Homo sapiens: one gene and its partners. The protein of the gene in region 3 purifies or fractionates together with the protein of the main gene of each other region. This does not show direct contact. Each region holds a gene or a part of one and is shown on either strand. Other genes may lie near its edges.

Evidence for each region.
Region 1: the proteins of SRPRB (region 3) and TMEM259 purify together in Homo sapiens (affinity purification with mass spectrometry; 4 studies listed by BioGRID and IntAct, with this or other methods). This does not show direct contact.
Region 2: the proteins of SRPRB (region 3) and SRPRA purify together in Homo sapiens (affinity purification with mass spectrometry; 8 studies listed by BioGRID and IntAct, with this or other methods). This does not show direct contact.
Region 4: the proteins of SRPRB (region 3) and STX18 purify together in Homo sapiens (affinity purification with mass spectrometry; 5 studies listed by BioGRID and IntAct, with this or other methods). This does not show direct contact.

What each region holds. Positions count from the first base shown.
Region 1 is NC_000019.10:1,011,123-1,018,156, reverse strand, and holds part of TMEM259 (membralin), read left to right. Parts: intron 1-3,683; coding exon 3,684-3,965; intron 3,966-4,798; coding exon of another isoform or gene 4,799-4,816; coding exon 4,817-4,916; intron 4,917-5,583; coding exon 5,584-5,694; intron 5,695-5,968; coding exon 5,969-6,091; intron 6,092-6,164; coding exon 6,165-6,265; intron 6,266-6,358; coding exon 6,359-6,416; intron 6,417-6,493; coding exon 6,494-6,577; intron 6,578-6,657; coding exon 6,658-6,790; intron 6,791-6,961; coding exon 6,962-7,034. UniProt on the Homo sapiens protein: May have a role in the ERAD pathway required for clearance of misfolded proteins in the endoplasmic reticulum (ER). Promotes survival of motor neurons, probably by protecting against ER stress.
Region 2 is NC_000011.10:126,262,438-126,265,929, reverse strand, and holds the end of SRPRA (signal recognition particle receptor subunit alpha), read left to right. Parts: intron 1-106; coding exon 107-193; intron 194-489; coding exon 490-662; intron 663-757; coding exon 758-971; intron 972-1,390; coding exon 1,391-1,554; intron 1,555-1,640; coding exon 1,641-1,739; coding exon of another isoform or gene 1,740-1,834; intron 1,835-1,885; coding exon 1,886-2,014; 3' UTR 2,015-2,992; downstream 2,993-3,492. UniProt on the Homo sapiens protein: Component of the signal recognition particle (SRP) complex receptor (SR). Ensures, in conjunction with the SRP complex, the correct targeting of the nascent secretory proteins to the endoplasmic reticulum membrane system.
Region 3 is NC_000003.12:133,808,781-133,815,814, forward strand, and holds part of SRPRB (signal recognition particle receptor subunit beta), read left to right. Parts: intron 1-2,336; coding exon 2,337-2,419; intron 2,420-6,809; coding exon 6,810-6,946; intron 6,947-7,034. UniProt on the Homo sapiens protein: Component of the signal recognition particle (SRP) complex receptor (SR). Ensures, in conjunction with the SRP complex, the correct targeting of the nascent secretory proteins to the endoplasmic reticulum membrane system.
Region 4 is NC_000004.12:4,455,022-4,462,055, reverse strand, and holds part of STX18 (syntaxin-18), read left to right. Parts: intron 1-83; exon of another isoform or gene 84-150; intron 151-2,568; coding exon 2,569-2,684; intron 2,685-4,555; coding exon 4,556-4,633; intron 4,634-4,798; coding exon 4,799-4,865; intron 4,866-7,034. UniProt on the Homo sapiens protein: Syntaxin that may be involved in targeting and fusion of Golgi-derived retrograde transport vesicles with the ER.

The DNA of each region.
Region 1 (7,034 bases), on a different chromosome or scaffold from region 3:
TGGGTGCCTGCACCTGTGCGGTTGGGCTCTGGACCCAGGTGACCACCAAGTGGATGCCCACAGGGTGAAGGGGTCTCGACTCAGCACCCCTGGACATGGGCAGGGGCCCGCGCCTAGCCACAGGGAGTAATGGGGCTCCTCTTGTGGGGTCGTGACGATTAAAGACGGGGTATGTGAGACCCCAGGGGCCCTGCTCTGAATGGGGGACCTGTCACATTGAGGCCACTGTGAGGCTGCAGTGGAAGGAGAGGCCCCGGTGGCCTGGAGGCAGGAAGCACCCCGGGTGGACAAAGGGGAGCCCCAGGTAGTGTTTCCTGGCTGGGGCTGAGGGCTCTGTGTCCCACCTGGGAGGAGAGTGTGGCTCCGCGGGCTTGTGTGTCCGTCGGTCTGTGGGTCAGTCAAATACCCAGAGAGCGGGCAGGCTGCTCCTGGCACTCCAGGTCTGTGGGGAGACAGGAAAGGAAAGGCCCACCCAGTGGCCGAGTGTTGGGGTGCCCTGAGAGCCTCGGCCAGAACATCCAGGAAGCTTCCTGGAGGAGGCGGTGAGCACGGCCCCAGGCTGGGGGAGGTGCTCCTGTGGGTGCAGCCGTGTGTGGGCTGACCCGGAGGAAGGAAGGGTCATAGGGGTGGGGTGACTCCTGTGCTGGGTGGGCAGGGCCTCCTGGAGGTGAGCCACAGCCAGTGGGATGGGGTGGGGTGTCCAGGCAGCTGGAGAGCGTGTGGGAAGGCCGTGGGGCTGGAGCATGTGGGTGCCTGCTGGGGAGCCTGGGTCAGGGACAGGGTCATGGAGTGTAGGGGACTGGACCACCCAGGGCATGCGAGTGGCTGAGCCAGGTTGCGGGCAGAGGGTGGCCAGGGGCCCATGGGAGCATTTGCAGGTGAGCTCCCTGGGGAGGGTTACTGTGGGCGTGGACGAGGCTGCCTGGGCGTGTGGCTCAGGGCCGGGCCTGGTGAGGTGGCTGCTGCAGGGTGGCTGATGACAGACAGGTCTTGGGGAGGAGGACCCGGGACTCGGGATGAGCCTGCGTCTGGCTGGGTGGTGCCTGCTCCTTGTTTTGTGGTGGGAGACTGAAGGGGAGCTGAGGCTTTGGCGGCAACGGGCCTTGTCCAGTGGGGCATTTTTCTGGTCATGCTCAGTCAGGGAAGAGGGGCCCTGAGCTCGGTCAGCACGGAGCACCTGATGGGGCAGAGACACAGTGACGTCTGAGTCATAGCGTCTGGTGGACTTGAAGTCTTTGACTGGAGTGTGTGCACATTGTGTGAAAACACTGGTGCCCTCTCATCACGTCCGCTGTCTTCATGGGACGGGTCACTCACACCAGTGCTGGGTGTGGCAGGATGTGTGTCCTGTGCCCTCTCCCGCTGACCCTGGACCAAGCTGACCCTGCCCAGGGCAACCCCAGGAGCTGCTCTTCCCCGTGGGGCCTTAATTGTGCAGACTGGCACTGCCCTGGCCCCTCCCTCCTGGCCATGTGACCTCAGCAGGTCCAGGTCTGTCGGGACCTCTGTGTCAGTTCCTCGTATATAAACCAGGGATGGTAACAGCCGTGCGTCCCTTGTGAAGCGTTGGACAGCCCCGACCTCGGCCCACTGTGTATCAGCACTTTTTGGAACATCTTGGCACAGGGTCCATTGCTGTCCTGGGCACAGCTCCTGCTGGATGTGTGGGCCTGGAAGGCAGAGCGTGGCCACCAGCAGCATCCACCATGGGCCTCGCGGGCCCCTCTCTCCTGAGAGTGCTGAGCCGAGGGGCTGTGGGGTCAGTGTCTCTGACCGTGACCCACCACTGGGCCCAGCCTCCGTGGCTCCTGTCCCCAGATGCCATATGGGGAAACGCTAGGCTTTGAAAGCATCTCAGGCTCCGGGGCTGCCCCCCTTCCACACTGCCCTCCCTGTCTTCCCCAGGACACAGGGGAACCCTCCCCAGCAGAGGGCCCTGCCCCCTCCCCCCGCCCACCCCTCATTTGTAGCTCCGGCGTCTGTGGGCGGGGCCTGAATGCCTGGCGGTCAGGGTTCTGCTCTTGCCTGTTTCTGCTTAAATCTCAGCGCCGGGCCAGCCTTCATCCCCTGCGGCTCTTTTGGCTGTAAGGACTAGAAATGCAGTTCAGATCAGCCCAAGGGATTCTCCAGCTCCTGGGGCTGGGGAGTGTGATGGGGCTCGCCCCAGGTGCACGTGCGGCTAGACCCAGGGCTTTATCCGTGCTCAGACTCAGGGCCTCCCACAGGTCACAGCACTGCGGCCGGGCTGGAAGTGGGTTGCTTTGCTGACTCGGCCCTTTGCTCAGTCTACAGAGGGTTCTGGAGAGGAGGCCCCAGCTCACTGTGGGCGTGGAAGAGTTGAGGCTCCTGGTGGTCTTGCCTATGGCTGTGCGGCCACAGGTGGCTCACTGCACCCCGGGCATTGGTGCACCTGCCAGCAGGTCACGGGTCACGGAGGGGCCCTGTGCTCCAGGCTCTCTGGCTTGTGATTTTGAGTCTGATCAATTCTTCCCTGAGAGTCTGGGGTTCCATGTGGCCGTGGGCGCCCCCTTGGCCCAGCTGGGTCCTCAGTTTTGCGGATCGGGGCAGCAGGTAGACGTGACCCTCACCAGGCTCGGGGGTGATGCCTGGACCTCAGGTTGGGAGGTACAGTGGGCAGCCAAACCGCCAGACGGTGAGGCGGGCTCCCTGGAAGAGGGGCTGCCCTGAACTGCCCCTAGAGGGGCCCCACTCTGAGTTGTGCCTGCAGCACGCTGGGGCGTGGGCTCCCCAAGCCCTGTGGACGTCGGGGTGGGGCCGTCCTGGGCACTGCGGGGTGCCGAGCAGCATCCCTGGCCTCACCCACTCCATGCCAGGAGCTCCCCCAATTGTGACAACCACAGATGTCCCAAGCATCCCCTGGGCAGGAGCCCCCAGGTGAGAGCTGCTGGCACCCCAGTTCATAGGTTGTGCCTCGGGCACGGCAGCCTCGCCCTGCCGTGGGGCGCTCTGCCCAGCCACGGAGGTCCACTGTGTCCCCAGCAGCTGCGGCTGGCCCCGCCAGGCCTGGGAGGGTTGCACAGGGCGCCCCGCCAGGTGAGAGAAGCTATTTTCAGGTGGTGAGATCAGGGGAGTGCTGGGGACGCAGCGGAAGGTGAGGCAGGAAGCAGCAGGTTGGGCTGTGGAGGGCTGTGCCCTCTTTCGTAGACAGTGGGTCCAGCTGGTGGCCCTGGGGTGGCGGCAACACCCATGCTGCTGCTTGCAGGGCGGGAGCCGTTGGCTGGCAGAGGGCCCTGGTGTGCTCCACTTGGTGGGTCTGAGTCCAGCCTCGTCTCCTCCCAGGTTTGGGGGGTCCTGTGTGCATCTGAGAGGGCCCCGGCCTGCTGGCTTCGTCCGGCTCACCCCTGAGGAGGTGCGGGGCAGTCACAGGCCTTGCCGAAGCCCCAGGGCCTGTCAGAGCCGGGCTGCAGGTGGCAGAGCCCCTCCGGGGTTGGAGTGGGGCGTCCCCCGGATCCTCAGTCACTTGGACTATGTGAGGGGCTGGCCCGGTGCAGTCAGCGTGGGAGGGACCCAGGGTCCTCAGAGCCCAATTCGGCTTCTGGGGTTTCCTTCCTTTCCCCGTCCTGGGCGTCCCAGCGCGCCCCATCACGCCCCATCACGTAGGCCCTTGGGTGTCGGCTGCAGCTGGCCCTGGGGCGCCCCACTGACTGCCGGCCGCCCCCTAGGCCCTGTTTGTGCTCTTCGTCCTGGCCTACATCCACATCGTCTTCTCCCGCTCGCCCATCAACTGCCTGGAGCATGTGCGTGACAAGTGGCCGCGTGAGGGCATCCTGCGTGTGGAAGTGCGGCACAACTCGAGCCGCGCGCCCGTCTTCCTACAGTTCTGTGACAGCGGCGGCCGCGGGAGCTTCCCGGGCCTGGCCGTGGAACCAGGCAGCAACCTGGACATGGAAGATGAGGAGGAGGAAGAGCTGACCATGGAGATGTTTGGGAACAGCTCCATCAAGGTGAGCCAGGCCTGGGCTCAGCTGCAGCAGAGGCCAGCGCCCCGTAGATGCTGGTCGCTGAAGGGGCGGTTCCTGACATCGACAGGATGTTGGGGTTCTTGACTTTCAGGGACCTGGCATGCAGACAAGGCCGCCCCTGCCTGCCGTGGCCTTTTGGTGGCCTGGGGGCTCTGAAGCAAGACCCTCGGCCTGTCGCCCTGCTAGAGGCCTGGGCAGGGCAGGGGGATCTCGGGGAGGACTTGGGCTGGGCAGACTCGGGCCTTTGAGAGTAGCTGTTCCGGGGAGGGGATTGGCTGGGGCTGGGGATGCAGTGGGCAGCAATAGCTGAGGAGGCCTGGGGGCTGAAAGCTAAGAGCTCTGGGCCCATCCTGGCCGTCCTGAGGTGGCCCCACTGCCTGCAGAGGTGCTGGGTTCCCGGTCAGCTTGTGGTGGCCTTGGGCACTGGTGGGACCAGGTGGCTGTGTTGGGCCCCACAGCCTGGTGGGAGATGTTTTTGCTTCAGCAGTCAGGGTTTGGGGTCCCACCTGTTCCCACAGAGCCAACCCCAAGAGTTTGAGTGTTTGGGCAGAGCATCATGGACCCTTCCATGGGGTCTACTGCCTGTAGCTGGCCCTTGCCTCAGCTTCAGGATTCAGAGCTGTGCTGGAGATGGCCTCACAGCAGGGCAGGCTTGGTGTTGAGGTGGGGTCCCAGCTGAGGCGGGAGGCACACGTAGTCCACCCTGGCCTGGTCAGTGGTGGGGCAGAGGCTGAGGCTTCCAGTCCCTTCCCATTAGCAGGACTGTATCCTCAGGCTGGGCCCTCACAGCCCGGGCTGGCGCTGCTGACACCCAGGTCCCTGGTCGCCCACAGTTTGAGCTGGACATCGAGCCCAAGGTGTTCAAGCCGCCGAGTAGCACAGAGGCCCTGAATGACAGCCAGGAGTTCCCCTTCCCCGAGACGCCCACCAAAGGTAGGCCACCCACCAAAGGTGTACTGCCTCACGGGGTTGCCTCAGTCATGGGGTGCTGGGGTGCAGGCGGGGTCCCTCCGAACATCCCCAGCCTGCTGGCTGCATGTCCTGGACCGTTGAGGGCACCCCCGTGCCTCGATTTCCCCATCTGTCAGCACAGGAGGCTGTGGGGACACCCCAGAGCCTGGGGTAACTGGCTCAGCTCATCCTTTCTGGGATCCTCGTGAACGGCGACTTGGAGGGGATGGATCCCTTCGGCTCTGAGCTCAGAGTTCTAGCGGGCTGTGCTCAGGGAAGCCCCCGCCCCCGCCCCCACCCCTGCCCATCTGGCAGCAGAGGGTCTATCCAGAGGGCCGGGGCCTCTGAAGTGTTGGGGGTGTGCTGGGGGCCGCCAGGGCAGTGGGGCAGCCCTGCACCCAGCCAGCCCCAGCCAGGGAGAGGGGGCCACGGGAGGAGGAGCCTGGCCAGCCTCTGCAGTGCACAGGGCAGGACACCAGCTTGAGTGGGCACCATCCCAAGTGTCCATGTAGGGGTCCTCCCAGCACCCACCTGGGGCCCAGGGCTCAGCAGGTCTCACCCTCCACCCCTCAACGCCTGCCTTGCCTGCTGGCAGTGGGCGGGGGACGTGTGTGGGGGCGCTGACCTGGTCCCTGGTTCTGCCCTGCAGTGTGGCCGCAGGACGAGTACATCGTGGAGTACTCACTAGAGTATGGCTTCCTTCGCCTGTCGCAGGCCACCCGCCAGCGCCTGAGCATCCCCGTCATGGTGGTCACCCTGGGTGAGTCTGAGCTGCTGGGCTTGGGGAGCTCCATGGCGGGGCCTCCCCTCCTCCCTCGGGTCTCCTCCTGCTGGTGCGGGACGGGGGGCTGTGCAGGAAGCACTGGGGTCTGCCCCGCCCCAGGCACGCTTCCCAGGGCTGGGGTCCTGGATGGGTTTCCTAAGAATGGGCAGGGCCAGGAAGCAGGCCAGGCCTCAGCAATGGAGCCAGCTGGGGCAGGGCCCAGGGGGTGGCCTGGGCGGGGCTCCCGGCTCCCTGATTCACCCACCCGCAGACCCCACGCGGGACCAGTGCTTCGGGGACCGCTTCAGCCGCCTGCTGCTGGATGAGTTCCTGGGCTACGATGACATCCTCATGTCCAGCGTGAAGGGCCTGGCCGAGAACGAGGAGAACAAGGGTGAGGCATGCCCCGGGGCCGAGGGTGCGAGGGCGCGGGTGGGGGCGGGCGCTCACGGCTCCTTCTGCTGCAGGCTTCCTGCGGAATGTGGTGTCGGGCGAGCACTACCGCTTTGTGAGCATGTGGATGGCGCGGACGTCCTACCTGGCCGCCTTCGCCATCATGGTCATCTTCGTGAGTGCCTCGGGGCGGGTGCGGGGGCTGGCCGGGCGGGAGCCAAGCAGGCCCTCGCAGCCCCTCATAGCGCTTCCTGCGCGCCCCTTGCAGACGCTGAGCGTGTCCATGCTGCTGCGGTACTCACACCACCAGATCTTCGTCTTCATCGGTGAGTGTCCCGCCGGCGCAGGGCGGGGCGGGCGTCCTCCAGGCCCTCACCGGGCGCCCGCCGCCCTGTGCCCGCAGTGGACCTGCTGCAGATGCTGGAGATGAACATGGCCATCGCCTTCCCCGCAGCGCCCCTGCTGACCGTCATCCTGGCCCTCGTCGGTGAGGACCCCACCCGGCCTCCCCCGCCCCGCGCTGCACCCCGCCCCGCCCGCTTCAACCGGCGCCGCCTCTCCCTGCAGGGATGGAGGCCATCATGTCGGAGTTCTTCAACGACACCACCACCGCCTTCTACATCATCCTCATCGTGTGGCTCGCGGACCAGTATGACGCCATCTGCTGCCACACCAGCACCAGCAAGCGGCATTGGCTGCGGTGAGCGTGGCGCGGGGGCAGGGTGGAGTGGGTGCTGGTGGGCAGGGGTAGGGGGCTGCCAGAGGGAGGGGCGCTGGAGGCGGGGGTGGTGGCTGCGCCACGCGGGAACCCCAGGGGCTGGGCCTGGCAGGGTGGGACCTGCAGCCCCGACGCCCTCACCCCGCCCCGCAGGTTCTTCTATCTCTACCACTTCGCCTTCTATGCCTATCACTACCGCTTCAATGGGCAGTATAGCAGCCTGGCC
Region 2 (3,492 bases), on a different chromosome or scaffold from region 3:
CGGGATAGGGGTAGTTGAGAGCAGAATCACCTAGCGTTTCTCACCTGTACCATAAAGATTGGTCATTGCTGACATGGAACTGACATACCTGTCCCCCTCTCCTCAGCTAAGAACGTGGCTGCAGACATTGCCGTCCAGCTCTGTGAATCTGTTGCCAACAAGTTGGAAGGGAAGGTGATGGGGACGTTCAGCAGTAAGTACTTACCTAAGTGAGAAAGTGCTTATGTGTAGGTTAAGTGCATAGACCTCAGTTCTTACTAGGTATGTGACTTTCGGCAAATTCCTTAACCTCTAAACCTCTGTAACCTAGATTTTAAGGGTTATTGAGAGGATTCAGTGAGTTAGTCCTTGTAATGTGCGTCTGTTCTGGATTTCTGGGACAAGAGTCTAATTTACTGTTTTAGTCCCCTTAGCTCAGAAAGGTGTTAGGCATTTTTGAGAGCATTCCTTGAGTTTCACAGCTGCAACCTCCTCCACCTCCCCTTTCAGCGGTGACTTCCACAGTAAAGCAAGCCCTACAGGAGTCCCTGGTGCAGATTCTGCAGCCACAGCGTCGTGTAGACATGCTCCGGGACATCATGGATGCCCAGCGTCGCCAGCGCCCTTATGTCGTCACCTTCTGCGGCGTTAATGGAGTGGGGAAATCTACTAATCTTGCCAAGGTCAGTGCAGTTCCCCAGCCTATCGCTGATATTTCTGTACTTCTTGTGTCTCAAAATCCTGGCTTTAGGTGACTTTTCTTACGTCTTTTTCACAGATTTCCTTCTGGTTGTTAGAGAATGGCTTCAGTGTCCTCATTGCTGCCTGTGATACATTTCGTGCTGGGGCCGTGGAGCAGCTGCGTACACACACCCGGCGTTTGAGTGCCCTACACCCTCCAGAGAAGCATGGTGGCCGCACCATGGTGCAGTTGTTTGAAAAGGGCTATGGCAAGGATGCTGCTGGCATTGCCATGGAAGCCATTGCTTTTGGTACAGTGCATGGGAAGTGTGGGGGCTTATTTGGGGTCCCTTTTTCTCCTTGGGTTCTCTTGGAATTTGCAGAAGATCAGGCTTGTGCTACTACAGACTCGTTGGTCAATTACAGTAAAAAGTCAGATCAGTTACTTGCCATGCTCTGCTTTTGGATAACAGATGTAGTTGCAGGCAAAGCTAATATACCTTAACCAGAGAAACCTGAATTTGGTCACCTTCATCCTGTTGTCCTCCTTTTCCTGAATATGTTTGGTGATGGCCAAGCATATAATCAAGTTTTTCTCACATTACCTTGGAACCAAATCCAGAGCCCAAGACAGTGAACAGGTAGTCAAACTAGGACTTTTTGAGAGGAAGCTGGGAACGAGCATGAGTGGTAGTCCAGGTGTTCAGAGTTGACTACTTTCTTTCTCTAGCACGTAACCAAGGCTTTGACGTGGTGCTGGTGGACACGGCAGGCCGCATGCAAGACAATGCCCCTCTGATGACTGCCCTGGCCAAACTCATTACTGTCAATACACCTGATTTGGTGCTGTTTGTAGGAGAAGCCTTAGTAGGCAATGAAGCCGTGGACCAGCTGGTGAGAGCGTGGGCCCAGTTCCCTTTACAACTTGAGCTTTGGTCAATTTAGATGGTTCTTACACTTCTATCACTTTTTCTTTCCAGGTCAAGTTCAACAGAGCCTTGGCTGACCATTCTATGGCTCAGACACCTCGGCTCATTGATGGCATTGTTCTTACCAAATTTGATACCATTGATGACAAGGTAAACGTGAGACTGGAGGCTGGAATGGGCGTCCTGCACAAAGGAGCTGAGGCTGCAAGGAAATCTTGGCTCCAGCGCTTCCTGTTCCTGAGAGGGTGAGTGAAAAGTGGGCTTGTGTTGATGGGCTGTCCTCTTTCTCCACTTAGGTGGGAGCTGCTATTTCTATGACGTACATCACAAGCAAACCCATCGTCTTTGTGGGCACCGGCCAGACCTACTGTGACCTACGCAGCCTCAATGCCAAGGCTGTGGTGGCTGCCCTCATGAAGGCTTAACGTGGCTCTTGCCCAATACCAAATCGCCGCTTTCCCCACAAGCCCTTCTTCCTGTATCAAGAATGTGCTTTAGAGTATGTGAGCAACCTGTCTTCAGTGTAGTACAAAGGCAGAGTGAGGGGGCTTGTGGCTCCTTCCAACCCCACTCCCCGTTCAGCACAGCCGCCATCTGCAAGGAAGGCCTAATCATGTTACAATCACTGCCCACTGACCCTCTCCCAGCGGGCCTCCCCCTTCCTACTCAGGCACCCCCTTCACTCTGCCTACAGACTCAGTCTTATTACAGCTTTGACCAATGGTTGGAACCCAACACCAGAGCTTTGCTAATAATTAGTGTGGTCAAGAGCCGTCTGAGCCTAATGAGTCCCAGCTGCATTAGGTTAAGAGACTCTTCCAGAGCCAGCGCCAGGTCTTGAATGGCACCTCTCCCTAGGATACACAGCCTGCAGGTCCCCAGGACCTGGATGACACCCGCCTCACTGTGGCAGTGTATTGCCTGTTAATTGCTGCTAATTCTAATTCTGATGATGACTCCTACTCCATTGTTTACCCCAAAGCATCAGCTAGGCTGGAGTGATTTGTTACAAATGAGCAAAAGATGAGTCCTTGCTTCCCTCAGAAATAAAAGGAGCTCAGCTGCAGCGTTGCATTGGGCTTCTTGGCCTCCCAACTCTTCCCACTCCCAGAATCCAGAAGTAAGCTCTGCATGTTCCCCTTCCTGGGAGGAAACCAATTGTCAGAAGGATGTATGATGACCCCCTCCCCTCCCATCCTTCACCTCCTAAGCAGTCCTGGCTTTTCCTCATCACTCCCCTCTACAGTGCCTGGTAGACAAGTGCTACATTGAAGAACACAAACCTCTTGTTAAGACTTGTCCTGTAGCTTGATATTACAGATGTGCTATTAGTGCAATAAGGTGAAGGCTGTCTGCCCAGAGAAATAAGTAATTTATATAAGAAAATAAATTTCATAAATAAATTGCCTTTTAGGTCTTGGAGTTCTTTTATACAGGATTCAAAACTAAAATTCCACAACACACTTAACTGTAGTTCTAGGACATATGTATGGTCAGGACAACAGAGCAGAAGTTGATAATGCTCCGAGGAATCAGGTAAGTAAACGGTTGTCCTGAGAATGAGATCACTCCACCCCAAGGAGAAAGATCGGAACCTTTAAACTTTGGGTTATTAAAATTAAGCTTATTAGTACCTTGATGCAAGTTAGAGTTTCTTACAATGACTCTAAAAGTAGAGCCAGGGTCCTGGCAAGTAAATGAACAAGCTTTTAATACAGCTTAGTTATGTAAAATACTGTACACTGTAAAAGATCTAGAAAACTAGAGCTTCAAGTCATGTTTTAAAAAAGCCATTAAGCTTAATTGAAAAACCAAGTATAGAGTACAAAACTGCAACAAGAGCCACAGTGATTCCATGGCATCCAGACCCCGAGTCCTTCATGCAGAGCTGCAGCCGGTCAGT
Region 3 (7,034 bases):
TCGGGAGGCTGAGGCATGAGAATCATTTTAACCCGGGAGGTGGAGGTGGCAGTGAGCCAAGATTGCGCCACTGCACTCCAGCCTGGGCAATAGAGCGAGACTAAGTCTCAAAAAAAAAAAAAAAATATAAGGAATCATGGGAAAGACATTTTACATACCTCTGTAACTTCAGAATGTAGACAGTGACTACCAAACCGATTGTAATGCATAAGTTTGTTTGTTTGTTTTTGAGACAGGAGTCTCACTCTGTTGCCCAGGCTGGAGTGCAGTGGCATGATCTTGGCTCACTGCAACCTCTGCCTCCCGAGTTGAAGCGATTCTCCTGCCTCAGCCTCCTGAGTAGCTGGGATTACAGGCGCCCACCACCATGCCTGGCTAATTTTTGTATTTTTAGTAGAGATGGGGTTTCACCATGTTGGCCAGGCTGGTCTTGAACTCCTGACCTCAAGTGATCCGCCCACCTCAGCTTCCCAAATTGCTGGGATTACAGGCGTGAGCCACTGCACCCAGCCATGTAATAAGTTTCGGTGAGTGAGTGGAGTGAGGGCTCGTTGGAGGATGTGGATGGATAGATGGATGAATTAGAATTGTGGTTTGAGACCTTTTCTTCTTCTCTTTGTCTTCTTTCCCCTTTCTCATGCCTCCAGAATTAAAGATTGTAAAGAAAAATAAAGGGACATGTTTTTAAATATCTTAGCGATATCTTTGTTTTTTTTTTCAATGATGACACTCTTTGTGGCCCAGACCTTTTTAAACTCCCAAGGATTCAGATTTTGAAATTCCAGGTTTGCAAGATCATCTAGTACCTGCACTAGATTTTTAACTTAGGATACTCCAGGATATGCTTTAAATCTGTACCTTCTAATATGTAGCCACTGGCCACATGTGACTGTTGAGCACCTAAACTAGGACTAGTCCAAATTGAGGCATGCTGTAAGTGTGAAGTACACACCAGATCTTGAAGACTTAGTATGGAAAAAAAGAACGTAAAGTATCATTAATAATTTCTTTTTTTATTACATTTTAAAAGATAATATTTTGGATATATTAGATTAAATAACTTAAAATTAATTTTACCAATTTCTTTTTACTTTTTTATTATGGTTACTGGAATATTTAAAATTACATATGTGGCTTCTGTTATTCTATATTTCTACTATATTTCTATTCTATCAATATTTCTACTGAATATATAGAGCATTTTTCCCTTCCCTCTTCACTCTTTCTCCTACCCCCTTACGTTTTCGATCTAATCTCTTTAGATAGTAATATACCTAGTAATGTATCTTCCAAATTGCTTAGGGTGTGTGGTATAGTGCTGCTTTTGAAATGGAGCAGTTAAGTCCCAACCTGGGATCTCCAGACTCTTAACAGTACTTAAAAAAAAAAGAGAGGGACTAATAAAAAACATATTTGTCTATAAAGAAATGCACAGGCTATGTGAAAGGTAAGGTCATAATAAACCCAGCTGGAATTGTGTTAAATCTGTGCAGGATACTGATTGCCTGCTTCTGAACTGTGGGTATGGTTGGCTGTGGATAATGTAGAACATGTAAGAAATGATGGTCTGCTGCATGTACCAGGCCACATCTAAGAGTCTTATTGTTGAGCACAGCCACGTTTACACTGAATATAAACTTTATTCACCATTCCAGGCCTTGACCTTATATTCAGGAATGGCAGCCTGGCATGGTGAATAGAACTTATTAGGGTGCATCGTAGATTTGCTCAGTAGGGGCTCAGGAATTGACACAAATGCTGACGGAGTTGGAACAAGTAAATTATATGTCTGGAAGATAAATATTTAAATAATTAGATTAAGGGTGGAAATGATAAAAGTGTACTTTGTTATAAAGATTGGAGATCCCAGTAAGAGTAATATGCTCTATGAAAAATTGTAAGTTCTTATATTACATTATTAGTTTATGAGTACTTGTTACTGTTTTCACATTTTTGCTTATACTCATACAGTACTCCTACTTTGCTATACTCACACTGGTTTATCTCCCAAGCCTCAGGTAGATCATGCTTCCCTGACTCCCCCAGACAGGTTTTTCCTGTACCCTCAAAACATTTATCAGTGTTCTCATTTTATATTTATGTGTAATTTTACATTATGTTCACCTTTCTCATAAATTTTGCCAGATCAGGAACCGTGTCTTTGGCCACTGTTACATCCCCAGAACGTTGACTAGTGTTTTATGAGTAGAAGATGCTTTGTGAACATTTGTTTGGTTAATTAGGTACCAGTTTGGTAGCCAATATATGATACTAAAGGTTTATATTGTGAACGTGGAACTGTATTGAAACGTTAATGTTATTGCTGCCATCCCCAGGGCAATAGTCTGACCTTGATTGACCTTCCCGGCCATGAGAGTTTGAGGCTTCAGTTCTTAGAGCGGTTTAAGTCTTCAGCCAGGTAAGAAGGAAAGAAGTGAAGTGGGCTTGTCTAGGTCTGTATCTGTATATCAAAGCCACTCATGTGATTTGCTCTGGTGGTGTTTGGGAGGCAGCATGGTATCCTGTGGTAGACCTTGAGGTGACCTTGGGGTCAGCCAGTTCTGGGTTGCAAGTCCACCTTCACCTGGATGATGAGGATTTTATGGGATTAAAATGCTTAAAAAGTGTTTTTTAGTGTTTAGGAAATGTTAACCCTTCTTGTCATTGTTACTAAATGTTTGCATTTATTCTGAAGGTGAATTTAATAATGTATATGACTATTAAAATCTGAAAAAAGAATTTTAAAGCTGGGATGAATCCTAGCAGTTTTTAAATGCCAACATCATTTATATATATAGTGTTTTTTTGTTTTTTTTTTTTGAGATGGAGTCTCACTCTGTTGTCCTGGCTGGAGTGCAGTGGTGTGATCTCGGCTCACTGCAACCTCCACCTCCTGGGTTCAAGTGATTCTCCTGCCTCAGCCTCCTGAGTAGCTGGGATTACAGGCACGCACCACCACACCCTGCTAATTTTTCATAATTTTAGTAGAGATGGGGTTTCACCATGTTGGCCAGGCTTGTCTCGAACTCCTGACCTCATGATCCGCTGGCCTCAGCCTCCCAAAGTGCTGGAATTACAGGCGTGAGCCACTGCACCTGGCCCATATATATTCTCAAATTACGTAAAATTGATGTTTCAAGAAGTACAGAACAATATTTCCATATTTCTTTTAGTGTGTGCTCTGGTGTTACTGACTCTTAAGTTCTTCCCTAAAAAGTCTTATGCTGCAGTTTCAGATGCTTCTTTTTTGGTCTCTAACATTAATAAGAACTGAAGAGGAAAATCAGTATGCCACATTTCACTGATTTGAAGACACATTTTAATATCTCTGAATTTAGAATATATCTTATAGTTGATGGTGTCATAGTTTAATTGGCAGTATTTTCTCTTAGCGGTCCCTAAAATAATGTCTTTAATTGGCAGCATTTTAGTTTTGATGGAATGAAGTAGTAGATTCTTTGCCTTTTATTGAAGATGTCTAGACTGAAATTTCATTATTGCATCTTTGCCCACAAGATGGTGGTGATGAACAATTTGTCACAGATAAGAAAATTCCTTGGACAATTGAGACAAATCTAGAGCTGGTAAATTTTGCCATAATTGGGTTTTTATTTCCAATTAAATGTTTTTTCTTTTTCTATTGCCAGTTCTAAATATTTTATGATTTGCAGTATAACTACTCTGTGATTCATGTATTTTGGGTAAATAAAACATGCAAAATATGAAGATAAAACTTAGTTCAAATAAATTATAATCATGATAACATGCAAGTTGAAAAGACATTTACTATATTGGTATGTGACTTTTTTTTAATCCTACTTTCTGGCTTCGCCAAGTTTCCCTAGTGGCTATTTTCCCTCTCCTGATTTGAACATATGCTGTTGCTGTTCTTATCATGGTTCCCCTCCCCCATCTTTTAAACATTGCCTATTTGATTGTCTGAATCCAATAATATCAGTTTCCTTTTCCTGAACCTTAAACACTTTAACTTTCATCTTCCTCACATCTTCCTTTTATTTATGCTCCTTTTTAACCCCCATCCATACTTTTTTTTCCTCTTACATTCAGTGATGAGAATTACCAGGATGCTTATGGTCTTTTGCTCCCCATTGCTTCTTGAATTTTACTTCTTCCCTTTAGATTCAGTTTTCCCTCACTGAGTATATCTTTTAGAAGTGTTTCCAGAGAGGGTGATGAGTAGTCAAATGTTTTCAGTCTTTGTTCATTTGTAACTCTATTTGGCCAGCATTTTGGAATGTCTCTTTTAGCTGAGTGCAGAGTCCTGGGTGGCAGCCGCATCACTCCTGACCTCATCCATCTGTTGCAGATGAGAATGTTTTTGCCAGTCAGTCTAATTGTCATTTCACTGTAGTAAGTCTGCCTGATTTGACCTTCTATCCAGGGATAGATTTTCTTCTGTTCAAGGATGGATTTAGCTTTATCATTCTTGGAATTCAGTTGTGCTATTCCAAACCAAAGATTCTCCTCAGTTTTGGAAAATTCTCACCATCGTTTCTCCAGGTAGTGCTGTTTCCCCATGATCATTTCTCACACTCTGGAATTCTTATGAATGTTATTGAACCTTATTATTTTTGCCTTTCTTGTTTCCTCTCTATCGTATCTTCCAGATCTTTCTACTTCGCATATTGTAAGATTCCCTCAGATTTGTTTTCTAGTTTATTACATTATTTTCAGCTGAGCATGATCTCTGCTTAACTTTTCCATTGATTTATTAATATCATTTACTATATTTGTCTAAAATACTTACCTTTTCAAACCAGCCTGTTTCTTTTTATACTATTCTATTTTTTATTGTAGTTTGTAGTATTTTCTTAAATAATTTTAAACATTTACTTTATAGATAGCTTTATTATCTTAGTTTTGGGGTGCTGATTATTCTCTTTGGGGTACCAGTTATTCTCCCTCATAATTATTTTATTCTGTGCCTTGTAATTTTTGCTCCAGAACCTTTCTTCAAGAGTGACACATCATTGATATTGTGGTGGTTCTTTAATCCCGTAGGATATGAAAGCCTTGCTCCATAAGCGGTTCATAGTTCCTTCTGTTGGGGCCATAGGGCTTCAATAAGTCTGGCCCAATTTTTATGTAAGCCTTTCCCCTTGGGGGTCTTACACCTGGAGAGAGTATAAATTCATACCCTATATCTGTGTGAGGCAGTGGAGGCCCGCTGTTTCTAAGGGAACTTTTTTTGCAAGCCCCGACCTCCCTGAGACTATTTTAAGTTGTAGGCTTTGTGCAGGGCATTCAGTTCTAGCTCCCCAGCTGCATGTTGGCCATTGCATGTCTCTTATCTCCACCTGGGCATTCAAACCCTTGTCCATAAGGCTTGTATTTTTTTTTTTTTTTTTGAGACGGAGTCTCGCTCTGTTGCCCAGGCTGGAGTGCAGTGGCGCGATCTTGGCTCGCTGCAAGCTCTGCCTCCCAGGTTTACGCCATTCTCCTGCCTCAGTCCCCTGAGTAGCTGGGACAACAGGCACCCGCCATCACACCAAGCTAATTTTTTGTATTTTTAGGAGAGACAGGGTTTCGCCGTGTTAGCCAGGATGGTCTCGATCTCCTGACCTCGTGATCCGCCCGCCTCGGCTTCCCAAAGTGCTGGGATTACAGGCGTGAGCCACCGCGCCTGGCCGGTTTTTTTGTTTTTTTGTTTTCTTTGAGATGGAGTTTCGCTTTGTCACCCAGGCTGGAGTGCAGTGGCATGATCTCAGTTCACTGCAACCTTCGCCTTCTGGGTTCAAGTAACTCTTCTGCCTCAGACTCTCAAGTAGCTGGGATTACAGGCTCCCGCCACCATATCTGGCTAATTGTTATATTTTTAGTAGAGATTGGGTTTCATCATGTTGCCCAGACTTGTCTCGAACTCCTGACCTCAAGTGATCTGCCTGTCTCGGCCCCCCAAAGTGCTGGGATTACAGGCGTGAGCCACCGCACCCGGCCCCCTAAGACCTGTTGTCTGCAGTTTCCCTGGGCTGCTGCACTTTAGCTTTGATATCTCTTTGTTTCTGTCACATGAGGAGTCCCACTATGGCTGCCTTAGTTCAGGCCCTACCTGGTCACTGTGCTTCTAGTTCAAGCGCCCTCTAAGATTGCTTTGTCTTCCATTTAGGCACCAATATTCTTCATAAGACAGAAAAGCATGAACTCCACAGGTCATTGTGTCACGCCTCACTGTCTGACTTGGTTCTCCTTCATTTCCCCATCTCCCTGTGTACCAGCTTACCTTGACTTCCCCAGGGAATGTGTTTCACGTATTTGTGGCTTGAACATACTGTAGGCTGAGTATCCCTTATCCAAAATGCTTGGAACCAGAAGTGTTTTGGATTTTAGACTTTGGATTTTTGGATTGGGGATACTCAACCTGTACTTTCCAGACAGCCTGTGCCCCAATTTTTGGTCTAGCTAAGATTCAACTCAACTGTTACATTCTCCTTAAAGTTGCCTTTGACCTGGTCTCATTTAAATGATCTTTCTCTTTATTCCTGTTACACATGTGCATAGTTTTGTCTTGGCATTTATCATATGGTTCTCTATATGATGATTTGTCTTGGAGGACAGGCATCATTTCTTACTGTCTTTTTTCAGCTTCAGTCATTGATACACAGTAGCACTCAATAGTTCCTTGTTAAATGAGGATTTATGTTATATGATAACATATGCACAGACCTGCATGTGTGTCTGCTGAGTGTTAATCACCAAGATTGACTTTGAAGAAGTTCAGGATAGTTTTTCAAGATAATGATGTCCTGTTACACGTTCACATGCCAGTTTTTCTTGTTTTCTCCCTCCAGGGCTATTGTGTTTGTTGTGGATAGTGCAGCATTCCAGCGAGAGGTGAAAGATGTGGCTGAGTTTCTGTATCAAGTCCTCATTGACAGTATGGGTCTGAAGAATACACCATCATTCTTAATAGCCTGCAATAAGCAAGGTGCCATCATGTTTTCTTGCAATAATAATTGAGTTTTTTGGGGATTGCTGCTACTAAGAATTATTTCCATTATTTACAGTTGTTATTA
Region 4 (7,034 bases), on a different chromosome or scaffold from region 3:
GTGGCCTTGTTGATACTCTGCTCTTGAATTAGACACACTCAGGCATTAGTGCCACTGCGCAGCCGCAGCCCCTGGAGCACAGACAGCAGGGACAGGCCCCTTTGCAACATAGGAGAGAGAGGAACAGAGCGGAACCTCTGCTGTCTCTAAGTAGGTAAAAGAGAGGAGAGAAAGGTGTGGTGACTATATGCACACCCCATGCTTTCTGCGAGGGGGCCAGAGGGAGGAGGCTCTGGGAGGAGGCAAGGTGTCATTTGGGGAAGTTGGTTCCCACAGAAACATGAGGATTAGGGAATAAGCATTCCCCCCGGTAGCCCAGGTTCTGTCCAGGTGGAGAAAGACCACCCTTATTGTCTCTCATCAAGTTCTCCCTCCCAAAGGTGGTAGACTGCTTAAAGCCTTTCTTTTTTACTCTTCTGCCCTCCCAGTGCAATGTGCTAGCCTTGGCCTGCTCCTAGGAACATTTTATGTGGAGTATGATCATGGAATTGAAAGAATATGTGTAGAAATACTGCCTTCAGACCTATGAGGCTTTGTTAGTTTGACATAATTAGGAAGCTGTAATTTTTTCCAGAATGTAGAGCTCAGACTTTATTGACCCATTTAATTTTTTTTTAATAATGACATTTTACTAGAGCAGAACAGCATGTAACCTAGATAGCCTGTGGCTAGATCTCTGAATGATTTTAATTAAAAATAATGTCTCCACTTCTGGTAGATGGACTTTTTCCACAATATCCTGGCAACAAAACAATCTGGGAGAAAAAACTTCCTTGGTTTCTGTTGTTCTTACTAATAGAATAACCATACTGTCAATTTTCAATTTAGAAGGTTAATGTATATATATAATGTTTCCTAAAGGAACATTACCTTTTAATTAAATAATCAGTTTTATCAAATTAACCTTTAGACCTTTTCAATTTCACTGAGCTGAGTTTCCATTAAATCAAAATATAGAGTAGGAGGATGTTAATCGAATGTTCTTGGAACTAGTCATTTCTAGGTCTGTTCTGTCTGCAGGGTACATATTCACTGAGTTGGTACCTTTCTGACTCATTTGTCCCTGACCCCGTTAGCCTCTATTTCCGATGAGAAGGTTCCTAGTAGGGATGAACCTAAGGCTTTGGCCCCTCTGCTTGCCACTCTGGCTCCTCCCCAGAGGGGAGCCATTCATCTGGTGTTGGAGGTGGGCTGGGGTTGGGGAGAGGGGATCGAGCTTGCTGGCTTAGCGCCTTTGTCTCACTGTTGGGTCTTCCCTCGGACAGAGTCCATTCTCTCATGGTTGCCATCCCAAGCCTAAGTAACTAATAGAACAAGATCCTAAGGAGCATTGGAATAAGGAACTAATTCCATGTCACTCTTCAAGTTCCACTGAGAGAGGATCATCTATTCCCTAGGAGGCTGGAGGCTGTGGGATTTCTTTTTCCAACTCTTCCTTAGAAAATATGGAAGTGGGGTAGGGGCCGTGGGATAGGGGTGACTCCAAGGGAGGAGAGGATGCTTATCTGGTGATTGGGAGTGAGAAGGACTTCGTGCTCATCTTACCCCTTTCTTTTTTAGAAGGGCCTGTCCTCAGGATGGATGTATTCCCTGTTTGTTTGTGCCTTAAGTTTCCTAGAGAAGGCTTTGGGAGGGGGATGCCTACCTGTCTTGGGGTGGGGGGAAAAATCGGTTTAGGAGGAACTTACTAGGGAGCACAGTCGTAGCTGTGTATCAAGCATATTCTCCAACTCAGGCTCATTCATTGGTTCAGTTCATTCAAAAGTATTTATTACTGATTTATTAATTGATCAGCCTATTAAAAATGCTAGGCATTGCTCTTGATGATGGGGATACAGCAGTGAACAAACAGAAGTCCTTGCCTTTGTGGAACTTACGTTTTTAGAGGGGAGAGACAGGCAAGAAAAGAAATAATTACACAAAATATATGGAATGTTAGAGTGGGGTAAGTATCTTTACGGGGAAGGAAGAAGGGAAGTGGGATAGAAAATGTCAGGGAGGGGACAGTTTATAAAGAAGGATTAGGGAAGGCCTCATTAAGAGGGCAACATGGAGTAAACACCTAAAAGAAGTAAGGGATGCATTGATGCAGCTATCTGGGGAAAGAACATTCCAGAAGGAGGAGACAACCAACACATGTAAAGGTCCTGAGGTGGGAGTGTGCCTGGAATGTTTAGGGAACACCCTCCACCCTCTGATTCAGTCATTTTGTAGTGTGAGACCCTTCAGTAGCTGCGCCATTGTTCTCAAAAGCAGAGCCTACATTCTTTATAAGCCTGGCTTATGCTGTAGCCCTGACTCCACGCTCCTTCTCCCTCTCCCTCTCCCCATCTGGCTTACGTCAGTTGGGTCTATTCCGGAGGATTTTCTACCACACACCCTTCATATGTGTTCTACTATCTATCTAGATGGTTCTCTCACCTTTTCACCTGGCCTGTTCCTCCTCACCCTTCAAGTCTCAGCTTAAATGTCACCTGATCAGGGAGGCCTTTTCTTCTCTTCCCATCCCACTCAGACTATATTATGTTCTCATTTGCTGCTGCCCTTTCCTTTGCTGTCTTTTTTTAGCCATACCATGTCTGAATATGGGAGGATGACAGACACAGAACGAGACCAGATAGACCAGGATGCCCAGATATTCATGAGGACCTGTTCAGAAGCAATTCAGCAACTACGAACAGAAGGTAAAGTGCTCTGAAAGATGCAAACAAGCAACCATGAATATAGCAAGTAGTTAAACAAGATGCATATGGTGCGGCCAGTTAAAATTCCCTCTTCTTATTTCGATTTAGGTTTTAAAACGTTAAAATCTTTTCTTTCTTGATCAATGTTTTAACCAAAGCTGTTAAAAGTACTGCAAAGGCTGTATCATTCAAGTTAAACCAATGAGAGGAGGGAGATGGAAAGGACCTCTCCAAACAGAACCAAAAATATATCTAGGGGCCAGGGGCAGTGAAGACAAATTTGTGTGTGTGTGTGTGTGTGTGTGTGTGCGTGTGTGTGTGTTCTGTGTGGCAAATTGTATGTGTGTGGGTGTGTATGTGTGTATGCACATGTGTGCCTCTGTTCTGTGTGGCATTTAGTGGGATGGGAGTTGACAGCAGCCTGGGGTACTTAAGCTCTACTTGTAATATTCAAGTAAACTTTCCTATCAAACCTTCAAGGTTAGGAGGAAGGCTCTGGAGCCAGGGCTGCTTAGGTTGCACCCCAACTCCACCCGTCCGAGCCATATAGCCCTCTGCAAATCACTTAATCTCCCTGGGCCTTGTTTTTTTGTCTATGAAATGCAGACAATTAGGGAATGTATCTCTAGGGTTGTTATGAGCATTAAGTTAAATTCCTACAGCATGCTTAGAACTGTGTCTGGCACAAGAGCGCTTATTATCTCACTTTCGTTGATGTTTAATTCTCACTGAGACAATGAGATGGCTTCCCAAGTCACGCCTCTTTCTTGATTCTTTTTTAATTTGCTTAGGCATTTACAGAGTACATTAAATAGTAAGTAGAGTTCAAAGCTGCCAGATGCTGTTGTGCTCACAACACAGACTTTTGTTGGGGAGGTTTTTATTAGAATGCTGACGGACCACTTGGAGACTCTGATGGAAGCAATAGGCATTCTTGCCAGAAAAATGTACATACACAAAATTCTATATGCAATTTCACAGAGCTCCTGAGTCCCCCACACAAATCTTGGGTTAAGCAGCCCTATAGTAAGGCAGAAATCATGCCCTCTACCCTTAAGGGCATATACATTCATTGAGAGACCTAAAAAATGCACAGGAATATTTAACAAAACCTACATTTACATATGAAACCATCTAACCTTGGGCTATTTATTGCCTCTGAACCTTAGTTTCTTCACGTGTAAAAATCAGGAAACTCGGAATTGCTATTGTAATTACTAGCAGTACATATGTAAAGTGCTAGCAGAGTACCTGCACGCAGTAGGCACTCAGTCTCTCAGTCAGTGGTCACTATCTTACCAAAACCAGTGGCACAGACTTTAGGTCTGGTAAGGCCTTTTAGCACACTTCTGTGTGGTAGTTCCCAGGAGAAAGGCATCTTTGTGGCTAGGAGTCATAGGTTTCCTGGAGACAGAAAGTTTGACTCATTGTCTAAGGGACCCTTAGAATGTGAGTGGCCAAGGGGAGAGGATGGGGCACTACAGGCTGAAAAGCAGCACAGGTTCAAGCAGGGAGGAGTGTGTGATTTCAGTTGTTTAAACATGTTCGCTGAAGGTCAGCTTGAGCATTGGATGCTGTTAACACAGATGGGGTCAGCACTCAAGAAGTGGCTGCGTCAAATACTATCCTTAAGTGTTCTGATAAACCATAAATTATTTGACTATAGATTTTCTACAGGTTTAATCTTTCACTCTTGCGAAGCCTGATACATCTTACTGTTTTAAAAATGTAGTGTCACTTGGCACAAGACTTGTTTTATAGCTGTGTTTTAAAAAATACTCTCAATAAAGAAAGTGTTGTGAGGAAGCTGATGAATTGCTCTTTAGGATAATTGAGTGCGAAGGCCTGAACATTGTCTTTTTCTGTTACAGCTCACAAGGAGATACATTCCCAGCAAGTGAAGGAGCACAGGACCGCTGTTTTGGATTTCATTGAAGATTACTTGAAAAGTATTTCATTTTCTTTTAAAGGTCAAATGTAACATTTCACAATAGATGTGATGCAGAATTTAGCTTTGCTAGCTGAAGACTGTAGTATCTCATTATATTTAATGATGGCTTTGCCTGAGAAGCTGTTTTAAGCAGTCTCTCTTCTGGTATTTTCTTCTGCAACAGGAGTATGTAAACTTTACTCAGAACAGAGAGCCATCCGAGTTAAAAGAGTGGTGGATAAGAAAAGATTGTAAGTATTGCTTTCATTGGTGTTTCTTAATTAATAATAGTACTACTAATAATAGCAGTTAAAGTTTGTAGAGCACTTACCCTATGCAATGTACCGTGTTTGAACTTCTTCGCAAAATGCCATAGCTGGCGCTACCGGGCACTCACTGTGTGCCAGGCAGCATGCCAGCCACTTTATTGGCCCACAACAAACCCCCATGAGGCAGGTACTGTTTCCTCCCTCATTTTACAAATGAGGAAGTTGAGGCTCAGGAGGCTTGGCCACTCACCCTAGATCCCACAGTCCCACAGGTAGCATAGCTGGGGTTTGAGCCTAGGCTGTTGGTCCAAAATCTGTGCTCTTGCCCATTTTGTCTCTTAACCCGATGAGGCTGGCACATCTTGAGCCATTTTACCTCAATCTCTTTGACCCCCATACCCCTTCTTGTCGTCCCTGAAAGTGTATTCCTGAGAGAAGAGCGAGGGCACAACAAGCAGGCCACCACAAGGCTGTCCTCAGGTCACCTGTGACAGACTTGCTCGATGCCACATGCTCTGAGTGCACACCTCCCTCCAACCCCACTACCTGTCCCATGCAGGCACTATTAGGAGCCCTGTCAGCAGGTAAGGACGCTGACGCTCCAGCAGGGTAAATGACTCATCCAAGGCCACAGGAAGCAGGAGGGCCAGGCTCCTGTATTTTCCATGGCGCCTGCCTGGTTTCCCCTCTGGGCTCACATGAGCATCTGGAATGCAAGAGCTGTGTCCTCACAGTCGTTCCCGCTGCAACTCAGCCAGTCTTGGAGATGGAATACATCAGTGAGCAAGTATCCAAACCTGGACCATTTCTAGACTAGCTTTAGAAAGGTTTTAGGATGTTCTTTCAGAAGATAACATCACATAACTGTTTGGGGACACATTTTCTTTTTTGTTTTTTTTTGTTTTTTTTGTTTTTGAGACAGGGTCTCACCCTGTCTCCCAGGATGGAGTGCAGTGGCACGACCTCCTGGGCTCAAACAATCCTCCCACTTTAGCCTTCCGAGTAGCTGGGATTACAGGCATGTGCTACCATGTCTGCCTATTTTTTAATTTTATTTTATAAGGGTGGGATGTCACTATGTTGCCCAGGCTGCTGTCAAACTCCTGGGCTCAGGCAATCCCCCTGCCTCCCAAAGTGCTGGACTACAGGCGTGAGCCACCATGTCTGGCCCACATTTTTTAAATTCTTACTGTGTCAGGGGTCCCCAGCACTACTCTCTGGTTCTAGGATTCACTAAGAGGTCTCATGGGACTCAACATACAGTCCTGCTCCTGGCTATGATTTGTCACACTGAAAGGATACGAAGCAAAACAGCAAAGGAAAAGGCATGTGGGACAAAAGTCCAGAGGAAACCAGGCATGAGCTTCTAAGAGTACTCTCCCAGTGGAGTCACACAGCATGTGACCTATGACAACACGTGAAGTGTTGTCTACCAGGGAAGCTCATTAGTAACTCATTGCCCAAGGATTCTGTTAGGGGCTGGTCACATAGGCACCTCACACCTGGCATCTACCGAAACTCTAGACTCCCAGGAGGAAAGCAGGTGCTCAGCACTGAACTGCATTCAAACCGCATGTTTTGCAAAACAGTTCAGGCACGGCGAGCTGTTTTTATCAATTAGGATGGCATGAACTCTGCCAAAGTCCAACTTCTCAGATGCCAGGCAAGGGTTAACCTTGCAAGCAGGCCTTTCTAAGGATAGCAGCCTCAGGCCTACTACATGAACCCTTTTCTGCACATTTGTGAAACAGATGTGAAATTGTTAATGCCAACAAATAGAAGCATTTGTGGAAGATAGTAAGCAGATCAGTCAAGTTATCTGTCAGCAACAGCTACTATTATATAATGCACTGAGAGGGTAGCTTGAGAGAAGCCATAGATTAAGTCTTTGTGCTTAGAGAGCTTAGAAGCAGGCTGGGTTGCTATTAAACATGAAAAATTAGTCAGCTTAATCAGGATATGTCATAATTAGTGAAATCGGTAGTAAGCTCAGAGGGGGAAATGGTACGATCAAGTGGCATAGTATAATGCCTAAGAGCCAGACTCTGCAACCAGACAGCCTGTGTTTGAATCCTGGCTCTGCCACTTTCAAACTGTGTGACTTTGAGCAGGTTGCTTAACTTTTCTGGGCTTTTGTTTCCTTACCTATAA